Linked DNA regions of Homo sapiens. The protein of the gene in region 1 interacts with the protein of each later gene in a biochemical or structural test. Each region holds a gene or a part of one and is shown in the gene's direction. Other genes may lie near its edges.

Region 1 (5,169 bases):
CTCAGCCTCCCAAGTAGCTGGGATTACAGATGCGCGCCACCACGCCTGGCAAATTTTTTGTATCTTTAGTAGAGACAGGGTTTTACCATGTTGGCCAGGCTAGTCTCTTAACTCCTGATCTCATGATCTACCCGCCTTAGCCTCCCAAAGTCCTGGGTTTACAGGCGTGAGCCACCGCACCGGCCCTTGAGTTTTGAGAGGAGCAGGAGTAGAGGGATCTCATTTCTTGACTTACCAAACAAGAACCAGCTTTCTATCTTGCTAGCTTCTATAAGGAAAGTAAATGTGAGAGTTAGGCATATATTTGCACTATATTAAAAGCTATTTGGCTCTTTTTTCCCACCTAGAATTCATTGCTAACTGCTGGTTTTTGGTATTTGCTGTTCTGCTGACCCTACGTATGTCATACGGAAAGCTGGGCTTTCTTTGGGTTCTGAACCCCAAGATTACACCCACCATCACTATTGTCTTTGTTTTTCCCAGCATATTGCCAATTATATCTCTGGGATCCAGACTATCGGACATAGGGTAATTGTATCTGATGTCCAAGAAAGTTTCATCTGGGTTCGCTACAAGCGTAATGAAAACCAGCTTATCATCTTTGCTGATGATACCTACCCCCGATGGGTCACTACAGCCAGCCTCCTGGACTATGACACTGTGGCTGGGGCAGACAAGTTTGGCAACATATGTGTGGTGAGTTGATGTTGTTAACTTGGGTTACAGTGATGTGTAGGAAAGCTGGCTCAGTTTCTTGTGGGTAAAGCCAAGGAGGAATCAAATCTGAGAAGTAAAAATGGATATAAAATTCCATCCTACTAAAGCTAACTCTACAAGCAATCTGTTCTTTAAGCCTTCTTACTAGTCTTTTGGATTTTTCTCTGTGGTTTATCTCCCTCCTCCCTATTGAACGTGATTTAATGATAGGTTTAGTTTGAGCTAATGGCTAATATTTCTTTTTACATTTTATAAGAACTTTGGAATGTCTGTTATCTATGTTGTGTGGTTTTGGTTTTACCCTTAGCTGTGTTAAACTCTTGCTCATGGGTCGATTCTTTTGAGTTTCTTGCTCCTCAGACACAGCTCCTGCCCACCAGAGCAGGTGCAGGACACGTGGGCTCAGGCCTCTGTCTAGGCAGTGCCCCTGTGGCTGACTTGCAAAGACCTGGCCAGACCTGTTGCTTGGTGACTCAGGTGAGCAGGTCCGGGCCCCAGCAGTGTGACTTGTGTCACTTCCTTGTAGGTGAGGCTCCCACCTAACACCAATGATGAAGTAGATGAGGATCCTACAGGAAACAAAGCCCTGTGGGACCGTGGCTTGCTCAATGGGGCCTCCCAGAAGGTAAGATTGCAGAATGGGCCCCAGGGAGAACACTGCTTAGCACTTTTCCTGTTGCCCTCACTGAAGAAATTGCCTTTGGTGAATTATTCATAGTGCACACGACTGTGCTGAGTGCTGTCCGTCCACAGTCCTTTCTTACCAATCTGCAAAAAATCTCCTTGGAGAGTAGCGAGTTTCTTAGAGAGAGTCCATTCCCAGTCCTCTGCTCTGAGGTGTGTCCTGGGCTTTACTTTCTCCTGTAGGCATGTGCTGCTTTAATAGAGCATCTCTGGACTTTCGGGCAAATCTATTTTAGAAGACAAGCCTAGTGATTGCTGTTTTCTATAATTTTCTTTGTGTTTTCCTTTTTTATGGCAAGCTTGATAAATTTAACAAAATGATTCTTATCGTAAGAAATGATGAACAGTAACTTTAGCATGTTTTATGAGGCATTAAGCTTTAAGTAAATGTGAGAATTTTAAAATATTTGTAGGGTTTAATAATTTTTGGATTTATTGTTTGTTTTTGAGACAAGGTCTCACTCAGTCGCCCGGGCTGGAGTGTGGTGGTACAATCACAGATCACTGCAGCTTCCACCTCCTGGGCTCAAGTGATCCTTCCCACTCAGCCTCCTGAGTAGCTGAGACTATAGTACATGCCACCAAACCTGGCAGATTTTGTGGGTATGGGTATACGAGACCTCACTGTGTTGCCCAGGCTGGTCTTGAAATCCTGGGCTCAAGCAATCCTCCCACGTTGGCCTCTATAATAATTTTTGGATGTTAATAGATGATGAAATGTGCCTTAGGGAGCACTGCTTGCCCTTGGGAGTCCAGGGAGGCTCCTGAGGGTGCACACAGTCACTAGTCTGTTTGTGACTCACAGGCAGAGGTGATCATGAACTACCATGTCGGGGAGACGGTGCTGTCCTTGCAGAAGACCACGCTGATCCCTGGAGGCTCAGAATCACTTGTCTATACCACCTTGTCTGGAGGAATTGGCATCCTTGTGCCATTCACGTCCCATGAGGTGAGAGCGCCCACATTACTCTGGCCTTGACTTTTAAGGTTGTTTCTTGGTGCTGGATCTACCTAAGAGGTCAAATTCATTTGTCCCCACATATAATTAATAATGTTCTGGGAATTATAAAGTGACAGAAGTACTTGGGGAGATAGGAATCTTGATTCTCCCGCACCCAGGGAAGGCCATTTGGTTTTTTTTTTTTTTTTTGCGACGGAGTCTCACTGTTACCCGGGCTGGAGTGCAGTGGCGCAATCTCAGCTCATTGCAAACTCCACCTCCCAGGTTCACGCCATTCTCCTGCCTCAGCCTCCCAAGTAGCTGGGAATACAGGCGCCCGCCACCATGCCCGGCTAATTTTTTGTATTTTTAATAGAGATGGGGTTTCACCGTGTTAGCCAGGGTGGTCTCGATCTCTTGACCTTGTGATCCGCCTGCCTCAGCCTCCCAAAGTGCTGGGATTACAGGCGTGAGCCACCCGCGCCCGGCCAGGCCGTTTGTTTTTATAGTGTCCCAGGGTTTGCTTCAGTCTGATGCGAGTTTACAAGGTTAGCCTGAGCCCAGAGCTTTAGAACTGGACTCCACAGACTAGGATTGCCAGGATTGATGGGATGATCCCTCCTGGGGCACACACTGCCATATGGAATCAACTCTAGGTTTGCCAGAGTTTGGCATGTTTTATTCCAGCCAAGGAAGCTGGGATCAGGAATCTGACCTCACAAACCATTCTTTATGTGTGGCATTCTCTCTTGCACTGCAGACAACATGTGGTCTCCTTTTGGGGTTTAACTATCGTGTTGTAGCAGAAAAACCTGTGATTATCAGAAAGTGATTAGATATTTCCCGTGTGTTTGTGTAGTAAAAATGAATGGCTTGTCTGTTCGTTGTGCTTGTGGAAACTCTAGACTAGTTGAAATCACTTCTCAGTGACAGATTTTTTGTTTCTTCTGCCAGGACCATGACTTCTTCCAGCATGTGGAAATGCACCTGCGGTCTGAACATCCCCCTCTCTGTGGGCGGGACCACCTCAGCTTTCGCTCCTACTACTTCCCTGTGAAGGTAGGTTGGGGGAATCTGAGCTGAAAAGGGAGATCTGAGAAAGGAGCAGCACAGGGAGTGGATTGATGGGAATAGTACCAGGGAGGGTGCTCCCCTCAGGGCAGACCACAGCCAGAGCAAAGGCTTCACCTGCTTCTGCCAATCTGAACTCTGAGTACCAAGAGTCAACTTAAGATAGTGTTCCTGGATCTACAAGTGGGGTTCAAGTATCGAGTGGAGAATAAAAAGTTTTCCCGGTCTGGGCGTGGTGGCACACATTTGTGGTCCCAGCCAATCGGGAGGCTGAGCCCCAGATTTTGAGAGTGCAGTGAGCTAAGATTATCCCACTGCACTGCAACCCGGATGATAGGGTGAGACCCTGTCTCAAAAACTAAAAAATAAAAACAGCTTTCCCTACAAGTGCTGCTTTAGCATGTGCCATTTTCTTTGGGCATCTCACCATTTTTTTTCTTTCTGCTTTCTCCATATCTTAGAATGTGATTGATGGAGACCTCTGTGAGCAGTTCAATTCCATGGAACCCAACAAACAAAAGAACGTCTCTGAAGAACTGGACCGAACCCCACCCGAAGTGTCCAAGAAACTCGAGGATATCCGGACCCGCTACGCCTTCTGAGCCCTCCTTTCCCGGTGGGGCTTGCCAGAGACTGTGTGTTTTGTTTCCCCCACCACCATCACTGCCACCTGGCTTCTGCCATGTGGCAGGAGGGTGACTGGATAATTAAGACTGCATTATGAAAGTCAACAGCTCTTTCCCCTCAGCTCTTCTCCTGGAATGACTGGCTTCCCCTCAAATTGGCACTGAGATTTGCTACACTTCTCCCCACCTGGTACATGATACATGACCCCAGGTTCCAGTGTAGAACCTGAGTCCCCCATTCCCCAAAGCCATCCCTGCATTGATATGTCTTGACTCTCCTGTCTACTTTTGCACACACCCTTAATTTTTAATTGGTTTTCTTGTAAATACAGTTTTGTACAATGTTATCTCTGTGGGAGGAAGGAGGCAGGCTGTGGTGGGACTGGGTAGGGTATAGTATCACTCCTGAGTTCCACTGCTCTAGAATCTAACCAGAAATAGAAACCTAGTTTTTAAGGTGACTGGCATCCATGTGTCTTGTTCTGGAGATGAGGATGTAGGTGGGAGGTTTGAACCCAAGTTAGAGCAGGAAGAACTGAGTAGACTCCTTCCTTCCAGATACCGACTTGGACTTGCGGCACTCTGTGGCTCCCCACCCCCAGGTCTGTGGTGGTTTCTTTGTTTTTTCCTGGTTCTTTTTGCTGTGCTGATGAAACATGACCTCAATAACCATGTGTATACCCACCCCTCTTCCCACTGGGTATTGAGGAAGGGTGGCTGATTCTTCCTCCTCTTCTACTCTGAGGATGTTAGTATGGGGATTTTAGCATGAATTCTAGCTGGGGAGTCTTAACAGATGCCCCTTTTACTGATACAGCACCTAAAGCGATCTTTGGCTCCATAGGACCATAGGAAGGGTCAGTACAGAAGAACCTAGATACTGCCCTGCCCCTGAGAACTGTGTATATGTGGGGCCTGTCTGCAGCACCCATCTCAGGTGGGTTCCAGAGGGCCTTTAGGGTATAATGAGAGCCTGTTAGGTGGAAGAGGCCCAGTTCCAGAAATGTTCCAGCCCACCCCTGAGAATTCCTCCTGTTTAGTTGTGTGGGAAGCCCTCGTCTTCCAGGCTGTCCTTGCGCCTTGAACCTGGAGAAGTGAGCTCACTGTTCTCAATACTTCACAAATGTAAAA
Region 2 (3,954 bases), on another chromosome or scaffold:
CTCATATGAAAGGGCTAGTGACTTAAGAGTCCATCTGAAAGGATTTCTAAAGTTTTTATTTTAAAAAAATTATTATTTTACCACAGTAATGACTACGTATAAAGTTTTTATTTCTAGTCGGAATTCCGTCTTGTATGACTTGAGAGCTCCTTCCTGGCTTTAGGACTATGAGGTCTTGAGGACCCTCCTTTTGAATGACACTGTCCCTCCAGAGAGTAAACCAAGAGCTGGAAATACATGATCATTGGTACTCAGATGGGGATGAAAGTGAAAGTGTTATAGACCAGCTGTCCTTTTTAGGAGGTCTCAGTCCTTTGAGCATCTGATAAAAGCTTTAGACTCCTTCCACAGAAGAATACACTCATGTTGCATATATTTCAGGGGATACATGGACTCTAGGTCAAGAAACCCTGCTCTAGATACAGAATGGTATACAAGGCCAGGAGTTCAAGACCTGCCTGGCCAACATGGCGAATCCCTGCCTTGGGGATCAGGAGACAAGATTCTACTTCAGGCCTTGTTACTAGCCATGTGTGTGACTAGTTGCCTAGCTTTTTTGGTTTTCTCTTCATGTATGAGATAATCTGGGTGGTGGCCTTTTAGCTTTTAATGTGGAAACAGCATAGATTGGTTGTAAGGCCTGGGTTCAAATACTGGCTTGCCTACTCTTACGAAACTGGAGAAAATATTTAACCTTATCTGGGTTTCAATTATCTATGAAATACAGTCTTCCTAACCTACTGTCTTAAAAGAATTTTAATTTGGATGAAATTACACAGTGTCTGTGAAGGTACTTTATCAGTTTTCCTTCCCAGTGTACATTAGCCACTCTTCTGCTCCCATAGCATTTCCATGTGTCTCTCCTAGGTTAACACATGGTTTTGCTGTTGTCTCTATATTCATCTGTCACCCTGGGCAGGTTGTGAGTTCCTCCAGGGCTCGTACCATATATTATTTTTGTTTTTGTGTTGATAGCACTTGTGCGATACATGGTAAGCACCCGATGTATACTAAATGAATAATATAGAAAATAGTAGAATAGGCCAGATGTGGTGGCTCACACCTGTAATCCCGGCACTTTGGGAGGCCGAGACAGGCAGATCACCAGAGGTTAGGAGTTCGAGACCACCCTGGCCAAATGGTGAAACCCCCTCTCTAAAAAAAAATACAAAAATTAGCTGGGCATGGTGGCACGCGCCTGTAATGCAATTACTCAGGAGGCTCAAGTGGGAGAATCGCTTGAACCTGGGAGGCTGAGGCTGCAGTGAGTGAGCCGAGATCATGCCACTGCACTCCAGTCTGGGCGACAGAGTGAGATCCTGTTTCAACAAAAGAAAAGAAAATAGAAGAATAATATAAAAAGTGGTTGTGATTGGTTTACTAGGGCATTATAAAATTTATTGATAGTACTCAATTAAGGGATGCTTAAAATCAGTGAAGTTAGAGAATGTTTCAGAAAGCCAAAATGAAAGGACAGGGAATAAAGCAGGGGCATCTTCAGAAGAGTGCAGAGCAGCTCAGAACCTTTGTGCTTCTATTTTCCTTGTATCTGGAATGGTTTTCACCAGCTCATCTCATGCCTGGCTCCTCCTCATTCTTCAGGTCTCAGCTTCAGTGTCACCTTTTCAGAGGGGTTTTCCCTGACCACCCTAGCTGAAGTAGCTCCCTGTTTCCCTATCTGTTACAGCTTTCTACTTCTTGTATGAAACATTTCTTTTTTTAAGATGGAGTTTCGCTCTTGTTGCCCAGGCTGGAGTGCAATGGCACGATCTCGGCTCACTGCAAACTCCGCCTCCCAGGTTCAAGTGGTTCTCCAGCCTCAGCCTCCTGAGTTGCTGAGATTACAGGCACCCACCAGCATGCCTGGCTAATTTTTGTATTTTTAGTAGAGATGGGGTTTCACCACGTTGGCCAGGCTGGTCTTGAACTCCTGACCTCAGGTGATCCTCCCACCTCGGCTTCCCAAAGTGCTGGGATTACAAGCATGAGCCACCGTGCCAAGCCGAAACATTTCTTAAGATTTATAATTATTTCAGGGCTGGGCGCAGTGGCTCACGCCTGTAATGCCAGCACTTTGGAAGGCTGAAGTGGGCAGATCACAAGGTCAGGAGTTTGAGAACAGCCTGACCAACATGGTGAAACCTCGTCTCTACTAAAAATACAAAACTTAGCCAGGCGTGGTGGTGCATGCCTATAATCCCAGCTACTCAGGAGGCTGAGGCAGGAGAGCCGCTTGAACCCGGGAGGTGGAGGTTGCAGTGAGCCAAGATCATGCCACTGTACTCCAGCCTGGGCGACAGAGTGCGACTCCGTCTCAAAAAGAAAAAAAAAAGATTTATAATGATTTCATATTTATTTAATGTCTTTCTACTGCCTGAATATAAGCTTGAAGGAAGGGATGATGCTTATCTTTTTCACTATTGTATTTCTAGTGCCTGTCGCAGAAAGAACATAGTCTATGTGTTGAATAGGTTAATAGAAGTTTAGGGTACAGGAGCTTAGGTCTAAATTATAGATTGAGAAACAGCTGTTTTTCTGTTCCATTACTGTGATCATGCTTTATTGTATACCTGGCACCTGGCACTAGGGTGACCAACCTTCCCAGTTTGCCCAGTACTGAGAGATTTTCTGGGACACTGGACTTTCAGTGCTAAAACCTGGACAGTCCCAGTCAAATCAGGATGATTTGGTTTGACCCTACCTGGCATGTAGCAGGCACTTGGTACTTTGTACTTTTTAAAACTCTTTGATACTTGTTACCTCTTTTGATTATTAAACCCACGTGGAAGGTAGGGCACGTGATAGAGCCTGATGGCACTGGATACATGAAGCATCCGAAGCTCACAGAGGCTAAGTTACACGCTTAGGTGTTCTTATTCCTACTCTAAGATTTTAATGCCAGTCAAGAAAATTGTAGCACTTTGGGAGGCTGAGGTGGGTGGATCACTTGAGGCCAGGAGTTCGAGACCTGCCTGGCCAACATGGCAAAACCCCATCTCTACTAAAAATACAAAAATTAGTCGGGCATGGTGGCGCACACCTGCACAAGAATTGGTTGACTCTGTCTCAAAAAAATAAGAAAATAATGTTAGCTCAGTGTCCAATACGTGGTAGGTACAGATACATGCTTTTAAAAGTTCAAATTATAATATGGCTCTCAAGGTGTGAGGTTGATAATTAGGGCTGGGACACTTAAGATGGAGAGTCTTTAAAGTGGGGTTAGTGTCTATCCCTATTCTAGTTCCTAAGAAGATATAAGAGGAAGAAAGAGAGTTGCTTTGTTTAGTTTTGTTTTGAGCTTCCTGAACAAAGTGTGTGTGAGAGAACTGATAGAAGAAAGTAGATCTCCACTTTTCAAAGGCGTATTAGCGTCTGCCTTATGCGTGGCACTAAAGGAATAAATGAAGTACGCATAAGATCACCTTTGCTCTTAAGGAACTGAAAATCTTATTAAGTTTTTAGAAGTCAAAAGTCTGAAAGTTGTTAAGACTTGCCAGAGCCTAAAGAACATTCTAAAACCCCTCGTCAGGCCCACACAACCTGACAAAGTGAGCGCATTCATTGACAGTGGCACCCTCCAATCACCCCCAGTACCCTATTCCTTTTCAATTTTACAGGAAGCACAAGCTTGAACAGGGCCCAGACTATAGTCCTATCCTAGATCAAGTCTAGGCAGGTACCTCCTCTTCCCATGGCTCCACTGCTTTTATTCAACCCTATGTAAGGACTGTGGCAGATGGAGAGTCAGCCCACAGTCTTAAACCTCATTCCACAGTTGCACTGGGTGGTTGGAACACAGATGGAGGCAAGGGGGCCATCTTGTCACCCAGAGCCTGAACTGAGTGGGACCTCTACCCATTGTCTCCACTAACAGTCACATGGCCACCTGCTGCCTGCAATTTAGCGTTGCGTTGCTCCTCAAACTTCTCTACCTCTCCCAGAGGAAGTTGGTGA
Region 3 (4,334 bases), on another chromosome or scaffold:
TGCCTCTGTCTTCTTAAAAGCCACAGCCGCTCCCTTTCACCCACAGGGTTCTCTGTAGGTGGACAATGCTGCTTGCCACTGTTTTTTACCTCCAAATATGTTTTATTTTGGTAATTACCCTAAGAAAAAATTAGTTCCTCCTTACTGACATCGCAAGGATGTTATTAAGAGAGAGTAAAAAAAAAAAATAGATCTGAAGGGTTTACCCAAGAAAGGTGAGTCCTAAGGTAGAGGTGGTGATGCTACTCAATGAAAGCTCTTGTCTTTCAAGAACTTCTCTTTGTAAATCCTGGTTTGGCCCATGAGTGACCCAAGCCACTTTTAGGCTTTCCTAAACCCTAAGCATTCTTGTTTGGAAATCTCTATTCTATATTCTAAAATGCACCTCGTCACACATTAAATGTTATTGTTTTGGAAGTAAAATAAGAATTTAAAAATTGCTCTTAAAATTTTATGACTGAGAATAATTCCTTTACCACTGACAATTTTTTAACAACCATTGTTCATTTTTGAGAATTCTTGCAGTGAGAAATTTTGTTCTACACACTGCAAAATGCAGCGAATTTTGTTACAAATATTAAATTTAACAATTAATGAGTTTGACATGATGTTACTCTTTCTACCATTTACTTAAACATTCATTGATTTTGCATTTCCAGGTTTCTTTCAAGGTTTGAAAGCTGATGAATTTTGCTTACAGTTCTCTTATTTCTATAGACCCTCCCTTGAAATTCTCACAGTCCTGAGCCCTATGTCTTTATGGCTACTGGGTAAAATAGTCAAGTGAGAAATTAGCTCATCCATCCTTTGGGCATAGAGTTTGCTGCCACAAATTTAGGTCCCCTGCTTTCTAACTCTTCAGAAATAGGAGAGACATGAGATCACTTTTGTCCACTGATTCTGTCCTACACACGTTTATAAGAGAAATGGGTGAGGGACAAATTGCTAAGAGGCAATGCCAAGGTTTGAGTAGATTCCAAGTGTGATTTCGGCAGGTCTGTGGAGTTGCTTTCTCTATGGGAGAAAGTTGACGCTGAATATTTATTTTCAAACAACCGTATGTGTTTATATTGAAGCATCTGTTAGACTGTTAAATCAAAAATCCATGCCTTTTCCTATTCCCAGGTCATATACGGAATTTTTTCAAGTTGTAATTTTTTGGTTACAATATATATACTAAGACCATATGGTTTTCTCATACCATTCTTTGTATTTTCTAAATGCATATTAATAAAATGTTGGAGGCAACAAAACTTGATTGGGAACAGTTTGTATATGTGGTTCTGAAAAAGCAAAGGCTTCCACTTCAATGAGCTACAAGCTGTTAATACATTTCAAATGTGTTGCTAGACTGAAAATGAGCACTTTCCAGCATAGATTCAGAAAAAGCTGACCTTTCTCACAGTGCTATTGTATGGATAAATTCACAAAAATATCCATGTCCATGTAGCCAACATGCAAAGCAGAGTTTATAAGTTGGGTGATATGTACAGGAGGCTAGCGAGGATTTAGAAGAAAATGAACGTAAAATTGATTTTTACAGTATATTACTTCCCTGAGTAGATGTCAGTTAAAGTTACTTTAATCATTTTATCACATCGATTGATATTACTTACACTATAATAAAAGGTAATCTTTTGGTAATAAGTCTAAGGCAGTGCTGTAACTGGAATTTGGGAGGAAAGACCCACCTCCCATCTGTTCTTAAGCTTCTGAAATATGTTCAGCACAGCTTAGCTTCTCTTGGTACGGATACTGCTGTCAATATTTACATGCTGCTGTCTTCTAGGGAGCCATAAACTATCTTCAAGTATTGTAACATAGCAGCTAGAATGATGTGCCTAGATTTTTCTTTGAATTTCATAAAACAAAGCTGTATCTGTATGATTTCAATGAAATCAAGAAAATTCTGACTTTGTCCACCCAGCTAAATGTGATCTCTTTGACAAAGGAAGAGTCTCATTCAGCTTCCCAAGGGGACTTGCAATCACTCATTGTTGGGGTTTTTCTTCTGGAAATGCTGCTTAACACAATTGGCGTTGCAGCACACAGGCAAGGCACTGGTTTCCGTTACGATGCGCTTGCCCAAATACTGGAACTGGGTGATCTGGTTTGAAAAAGAGCCAGCTTTTTTTTTTTTTTTCCTAAACTTCCTCATTTTGAGTGGGTTAATTCTGTTCTAGGAAAAGTTTTCACAGAATTGCTTTCTGAGCGCCAGCAAAATGTTATGTTAGAAATAATGGTGTTTACTTCCATTCTCGATTTTTTTCCATAAACTTTTAGAAGTTCATTTCCTAAATCTAACTTTTATTATCTTACTTGACCTAGCCAATATAAATGGCATTAAGTCATTATTGCCATCCACATAACAGTACTTTGTGCTTCACAAAATAGGAAAAAAAAATATATAGCTCTTTCATCCCCTAAACACCAGGTTGATCTGGCTGTTCTTTTAAGGACGTCAGAAATGGATGGAAGCAGCCTGAACTTTGCCCCATATGAATTCGCTGCATTCCATCTAGGTCTTGAATCTGTTAGATCATCGTCCTAGGTCGGGTTCCCTTGATGCAGAGCTTGGGGTAAGCCTGCTTGTGCAGGTGACTGATTAACGGCATGTTCTCAGGAGAGAGAGAATGGGAAGTGCTGCAGGGGCAGCGCTAAGGAAGTTTCTGGCCTCCTCCAAGCCTCCTTGCAGCTGGACGCTGTTTCAGCCCAATCCCACGGGAGCCCTGAAGCCTGAATAGCGTCATGGAGTTGGTCTTTCCTTGAGGCAAGGGGGCCGGCCCGTGGTACCCCGTTCAGTCCACCCAGCTGTGGGATACCTGGGGGTGGGCGAGGCGGCGGCTCTGTTCAGGCAAGGGCAGTTCTCTGGAGAAGTGGGTGGCCATGGAACGAGAGCAGTCCGCACCCCTGCAGCTGAGGGATGGACGGACAGGCCTGGTGAAGGGAATGTGGGCGGCACACCAATAGCACCTCCTTCCGTCATCACAGAGAGCCTCTTTCCCCTGGAACCTGTGCTCACTGGAGTTTTCCTTCCTCTCCTGACCTCATTAGGCAGTGGCCAGATCCAGCTTTGGCAGTTCCTCCTGGAGCTCCTGTCGGACAGCTCCAACTCCAGCTGCATCACCTGGGAAGGCACCAACGGGGAGTTCAAGATGACGGATCCCGACGAGGTGGCCCGGCGCTGGGGAGAGCGGAAGAGCAAACCCAACATGAACTACGATAAGCTCAGCCGCGCCCTCCGTTACTACTATGACAAGAACATCATGACCAAGGTCCATGGGAAGCGCTACGCCTACAAGTTCGACTTCCACGGGATCGCCCAGGCCCTCCAGCCCCACCCCCCGGAGTCATCTCTGTACAAGTACCCCTCAGACCTCCCGTACATGGGCTCCTATCACGCCCACCCACAGAAGATGAACTTTGTGGCGCCCCACCCTCCAGCCCTCCCCGTGACATCTTCCAGTTTTTTTGCTGCCCCAAACCCATACTGGAATTCACCAACTGGGGGTATATACCCCAACACTAGGCTCCCCACCAGCCATATGCCTTCTCATCTGGGCACTTACTACTAAAGACCTGGCGGAGGCTTTTCCCATCAGCGTGCATTCACCAGCCCATCGCCACAAACTCTATCGGAGAACATGAATCAAAAGTGCCTCAAGAGGAATGAAAAAAGCTTTACTGGGGCTGGGGAAGGAAGCCGGGGAAGAGATCCAAAGACTCTTGGGAGGGAGTTACTGAAGTCTTACTACAGAAATGAGGAGGATGCTAAAAATGTCACGAATATGGACATATCATCTGTGGACTGACCTTGTAAAAGACAGTGTATGTAGAAGCATGAAGTCTTAAGGACAAAGTGCCAAAGAAAGTGGTCTTAAGAAATGTATAAACTTTAGAGTAGAGTTTGGAATCCCACTAATGCAAACTGGGATGAAACTAAAGCAATAGAAACAACACAGTTTTGACCTAACATACCGTTTATAATGCCATTTTAAGGAAAACTACCTGTATTTAAAAATAGAAACATATCAAAAACAAGAGAAAAGACACGAGAGAGACTGTGGCCCATCAACAGACGTTGATATGCAACTGCATGGCATGTGCTGTTTTGGTTGAAATCAAATACATTCCGTTTGATGGACAGCTGTCAGCTTTCTCAAACTGTGAAGATGACCCAAAGTTTCCAACTCCTTTACAGTATTACCGGGACTATGAACTAAAAGGTGGGACTGAGGATGTGTATAGAGTGAGCGTGTGATTGTAGACAGAGGGGTGAAGAAGGAGGAGGAAGAGGCAGAGAAGGAGGAGACCAGGGCTGGGAAAGAAACTTC
Region 4 (4,334 bases), on another chromosome or scaffold:
CACACACAGACGCACGCTGCCCCTCAGTTTTTTTCTGACACGCCTCTCGTTCTCTGCCGCCTGTCCCCTATCCTCTCCCCCACGTCCCTCCCATGGTCGCTGTTCTTTTATTTTTGATCGCCCCTGACCTCCCCCTTCCCCACCACTCCTTTTCCCTCTCCCCTCTCCCCAACCCCTTCCTGTGGCACCCCCTGAGAATCCCGAGATCAAAGAGTTGTTTCCATTTCTCTTTAAAGTGAAATATTGTGGGGCTGAGATCCCTCGTAGCAACAAAAAGTTTGCTACCATCGTCGAAGGCAAGTAAGGTCCATTCTGACTTTCTCAACCTGCACTTTGCTACATTTGATAAACCAGCCCCCGGACTCCAGGGCCAGATTCCTCCACATCACTCTTTTCTCCTCCCCTCCCGTCCCTGCCCCTCCTCCCTACACTCCTCCTCTCCTGCCCCTGCACTCTTGACTTCCTCCTCCTCGCTCGTCTCTGTCCTGCTCTCCCTTTCTGTCCTTTGCTCGTCTCTGCCCCTGCCTGCCACTTCCTTTCTACTTTCCTGCCACTTTTCTGTCTGTCTCCACTGGGTGGCCCTTCCTGTGTGCTCTGTCTCTTCATCTCTTGTGTTTCGTGTTTTTCTTCATTTTGTGTTGTCATCATGCCCTCTGCCTTTTCTTGAACAATCTTCTCCTTTCCCCTGATTTTTTGGGGCCCCTGTGGCTGTCCCCCAACGCCTGTCCATCGCCTGCCCTTGGCCGTCTCTTGCTACTGCTTCCTCCCCATTTTCTCTCTTGCTTCTGTTCTTACTATTGACTTCTACACCCCCACCCATATTCCACTGTTCCTTCCCCCCCTCCTCCCTCCCCTCATCCCTCTCCCCTTACCCCCAAACCCCTCTGTGTCTCCCTCTCTCACCCTTCCCCTCCTCTCTCCACCTCCCTTCCCCCGCCCCCCCCCTTGTCTCCTATTCCCTCTGCAGGAGGCCATGATGGATTTCTTCAACGCCCAGATGCGCCTGGGGGGGCTGACCCAGGCCCCTGGCAACCCAGTGTTGGCTGTGCAGATTAACCAGGACAAGAATTTTGCCTTTTTGGAGGTGAGCTGGGGGAGTGAGTGAGGTCCAGGAAACGTGTGTGATGTGAGGGCCCAGCCCTTAGGCTGATGTTGTGTGGAGCTGCCTTGTGCTGTTTCCACCAGGCCCTCTGCAGCCTCTTCTCCACCCGGTCGCTGAAGTGAGCCCTGTTATAGCATTACAGATCTGATCCTACTTTCTGCCTTCCATTTGCTTTCTGTGTGACCTGAGAGGCCTGTTTGGCCTCTGTAGACCTCTTTGGCCTTTTCCAGACCATTCCGGCCCAGTCCTCTCTGCACTCTGGCCACACTGACCTTCCCAGAACCTACCATGCTCCTGCCTGCTTGGCTAGAGTTCTTTACACCAGCTAACTGATGTTCCTAACTAGTCTTCTGTTACCCCAGCTAACTGATGTTCCTAACTAGTCTTCTGTGTCTGTGTTTCTCAACTGTCGGGAAAAGGCCTTGGTTTTTGATTTTCGACTCTTGGTGGACTGATAACTCTCATGAAGTATTGTGAAGGTGTGGGCAGTGTTAGCTTACTGCAGAGATTTCTGAGCACTCCCTCTCACTGTCTGAGCACTCCCTCTCACTCTGTCCCTCTCACTCTGTCTTTGCCTCACTGCAGTCCACTTGCAGTTGCATTGCTCCGGAGATGGGCTGAAATGTCCCCCTCACCAGAAAGACTCCAGTACTGTCATCTCCCCGTTCAACTAACCTTTCCCGTAACATCCCTTTTCAGCACTTTGTCCCTCTTCCGTGTCATCACAGCCTGCAATTGTGTGTTTGCCTCTGTGTTTGTGTTGGGTGCCTGGTGTTTTTAATGGTCGAGTGTGAGCTCCTGGCAGCAGGGACATGCGTGTCTGTTGTACTCCCAGTGCCCAGCCTGGGGCCTGGCATGTTGTATTTGTTCACATGAGTGAAAGGAAAGAGGAAATCCCAATCCTGGAACACTAGGGGCTGTACTAGTCCCTGACCCCCATCCCTCACCACTCCTTTCTCTTTCATTCAGTTCCGCTCAGTGGACGAGACTACCCAGGCTATGGCCTTTGATGGCATCATCTTCCAGGGCCAGTCACTAAAGATCCGCAGGCCTCACGACTACCAGCCGCTTCCTGGCATGTCAGAGAACCCCTCCGTCTATGTGCCTGGTGAGTGGGGGATCCATTAAGGGCCCCTTTCTCCCCCAGTCCTGTTCCCATGGCCTGTCCATCCCTTCAGCCCAGCTGGAGTGGCTTAGGAAGTTGTGTAAGTACTGTGGAAGATAGGTGCCTTTTCCCTGCTTCCCCTAAGTCTCTGTGAGTGGGGTGCTCTCCTGCTGGTAGAGAAGGTGCCTAGGGCCGGGAGAATGAGCTGTCACCTGCTGAGGACACACAGCTTGTACGTGGCAGAGCCAGGATCAGACCAAAGGTGCTGGGGAAGCGAGGGGCTTGTGGCCTGGACCTCGTGCCTGCGTTGCGGCTGTGGGACCTTGGAGGGCTCAGTCTGTGCCCGTCGGGGCTGCTGTGTGTCGACGGTTGGCAGCAAAGCTGCTGCTGTGGGGTCTGGCACCTGGGTATTCACTTGTTTTTGTCTCCTAGTGTTTGCCTTGAATCTTGTGTTCTGGGCCATTCCCCATAGCTGTGTTGAACATCATCTGTAATTGGTAGGTAACATAGCAGACCAGGGGTTGGCGACCATGTCACTGTGTGTGAAAGCAGCCGGACGGTGTCTGCGTGCGTGGGCCTGGCTGTGTGCCGGCACACCTCGACACGCGTGGCTGCTGAGGTTGGGCTTTCCTGTGCTTCTCACAGGCCACAGAATGGTCTCCCTTTAGAAAGCTTGCAGGATGTGCAAAACCAGGTGATGGGCCCTGTCAGCCCACAGGCTATAGTTGGCTGACCCTTGTAGCTGATGAATGGGATTTGAGGGAGGGCTTGTCTGATGCCCTGTCAGGGTGCGGCTGTGTCTCAGGCCTGGGACATGGAGGAGGTGGGGTTCTGCTGGCGGGTACTCACTGTTCGAGGAGCCCTTTAGGAACTGAGTCAGCTCTTCAGGGCAGGCGATGTGGAGCCCCAGACGGAGGCACATCTGTGTCAGGCAGGACTTGGGCTAGGTCCCTCACTGGCCTCCAGTGCTTTTCTTTTTGTTGTTGTTGTTGTTTTGAGACAGTCTCGCTCTGTCACCCAGGCTGGAATGCAGTGGCACGATCTCGGCTTACTGCATCCTCCGCCTCTAGGGTTCAAGCAATTCTCCTGCTTCAGCCTCCCGAGCAGCTGGGATTACAGGCACCTGCCACCATGTCTGGCTAATTTTTGTATTTTTAGTAGAGGGTGGGTTTCACCATGTTGGTCAGGTTGGTCTCCGACGCCTGACCTCAAGTGATCCGCTCACCTCAGTCTCCCAGAGTGTTGGGATTACAGGCATGAGCCACTGCGCTCAGCCCAGTGCTTTTCCATCATGGGTTTTGGTAAATTCAGCTAACCTTTTGGAGCCTGTAATATATGTTGACATGCTCCCAATCGACATGGACTTTTTACGTATGGGTGCGTTTCCCCGATCAAGCTGCAGAATGTCTTCCCCACGTCTCTTCCTGGTGAATCCACTGCGTTTTCATTCATTTTAAGTCCCATGAGTGGCCCGCCACTTGCTGGTGCTTAGTGTGTGTCAGGCGCTGTCCTAAGTGCCCTCCATGCACGGCAGTTCTACGACACAGGGATTGGCGCTGTCCTAAGTGCCCTCCATGGACGGCAGTTCTACGACACAGGGATTGGCGCTGTCCTAAGTGCCCTCCATGCACGGCAGTTCTACGACACAGGGATTGGCGCTGTCCTAAGTGCCCTCCATGGACGGCAGTTCTACGACACAGGGATTGGCGCTGTCCTAAGTGCCCTCCATGGACGGCAGTTCTACGACACAGGGATTGGCGCTGTCCTAAGTGCCCTCCATGGACGGCAGTTCTACGACACAGGGATTGGCGCTGTCCTAAGTGCCCTCCATGCACGGCAGTTCTACGACACAGGGATTGGCAGGTTACAACTGAGAGTCCAACGCTGGCCCACTGCCTGTTTTTTGTTTTTTTGTTGTGTTTTTTGAGACGGAGTCTTGCTGTGTTGCCCAGGCTGGAGTGCAGTGGTGTGATCTCGGCTCACTGCAACCTCCGCCTCCCAGGTTCAAGCGATTCTCCTGCCTCAGCCTCCCGAGTAGCTGGGATTACAGGCATGTGCCACCACACCTGCTAATTTTTTGTGTTTTTAGTAGAGATGGGGTTTCACCATGTTGGCCAGGCTGGTCTC

What was found. The genes of interacting proteins can lie anywhere in the genome.
Region 2: the proteins of SF3B3 (region 1) and SF3B6 form a complex in vitro, tested with the Homo sapiens proteins (one study listed by BioGRID).
Region 3: the proteins of SF3B3 (region 1) and ERG form a complex in vitro, tested with the Homo sapiens proteins (one large-scale study listed by BioGRID).
Region 4: the proteins of SF3B3 (region 1) and U2AF2 form a complex in vitro, tested with the Homo sapiens proteins (one study listed by BioGRID).

Annotation. Positions count from the first base shown.
Region 1 is NC_000016.10:70,567,800-70,572,968, forward strand, and holds part of SF3B3 (splicing factor 3B subunit 3), read left to right. Parts: intron 1-483; coding exon 484-696; intron 697-1,243; coding exon 1,244-1,342; intron 1,343-2,206; coding exon 2,207-2,350; intron 2,351-3,295; coding exon 3,296-3,400; intron 3,401-3,873; coding exon 3,874-4,014; 3' UTR 4,015-5,169. UniProt on the Homo sapiens protein: Component of the 17S U2 SnRNP complex of the spliceosome, a large ribonucleoprotein complex that removes introns from transcribed pre-mRNAs.
Region 2 is NC_000002.12:24,069,373-24,073,326, reverse strand, and holds part of SF3B6 (splicing factor 3B subunit 6), read left to right. Parts: intron 1-3,954.
Region 3 is NC_000021.9:38,382,644-38,386,977, reverse strand, and holds part of ERG (transcriptional regulator ERG), read left to right. Parts: intron 1-3,054; coding exon 3,055-3,575; 3' UTR 3,576-4,334. UniProt on the Homo sapiens protein: Transcriptional regulator. May participate in transcriptional regulation through the recruitment of SETDB1 histone methyltransferase and subsequent modification of local chromatin structure.
Region 4 is NC_000019.10:55,661,535-55,665,868, forward strand, and holds part of U2AF2 (splicing factor U2AF 65 kDa subunit), read left to right. Parts: intron 1-236; exon of another isoform or gene 237-296; intron 297-967; coding exon 968-1,084; intron 1,085-2,071; coding exon 2,072-2,210; intron 2,211-4,334. UniProt on the Homo sapiens protein: Plays a role in pre-mRNA splicing and 3'-end processing. By recruiting PRPF19 and the PRP19C/Prp19 complex/NTC/Nineteen complex to the RNA polymerase II C-terminal domain (CTD), and thereby pre-mRNA, may couple transcription to splicing.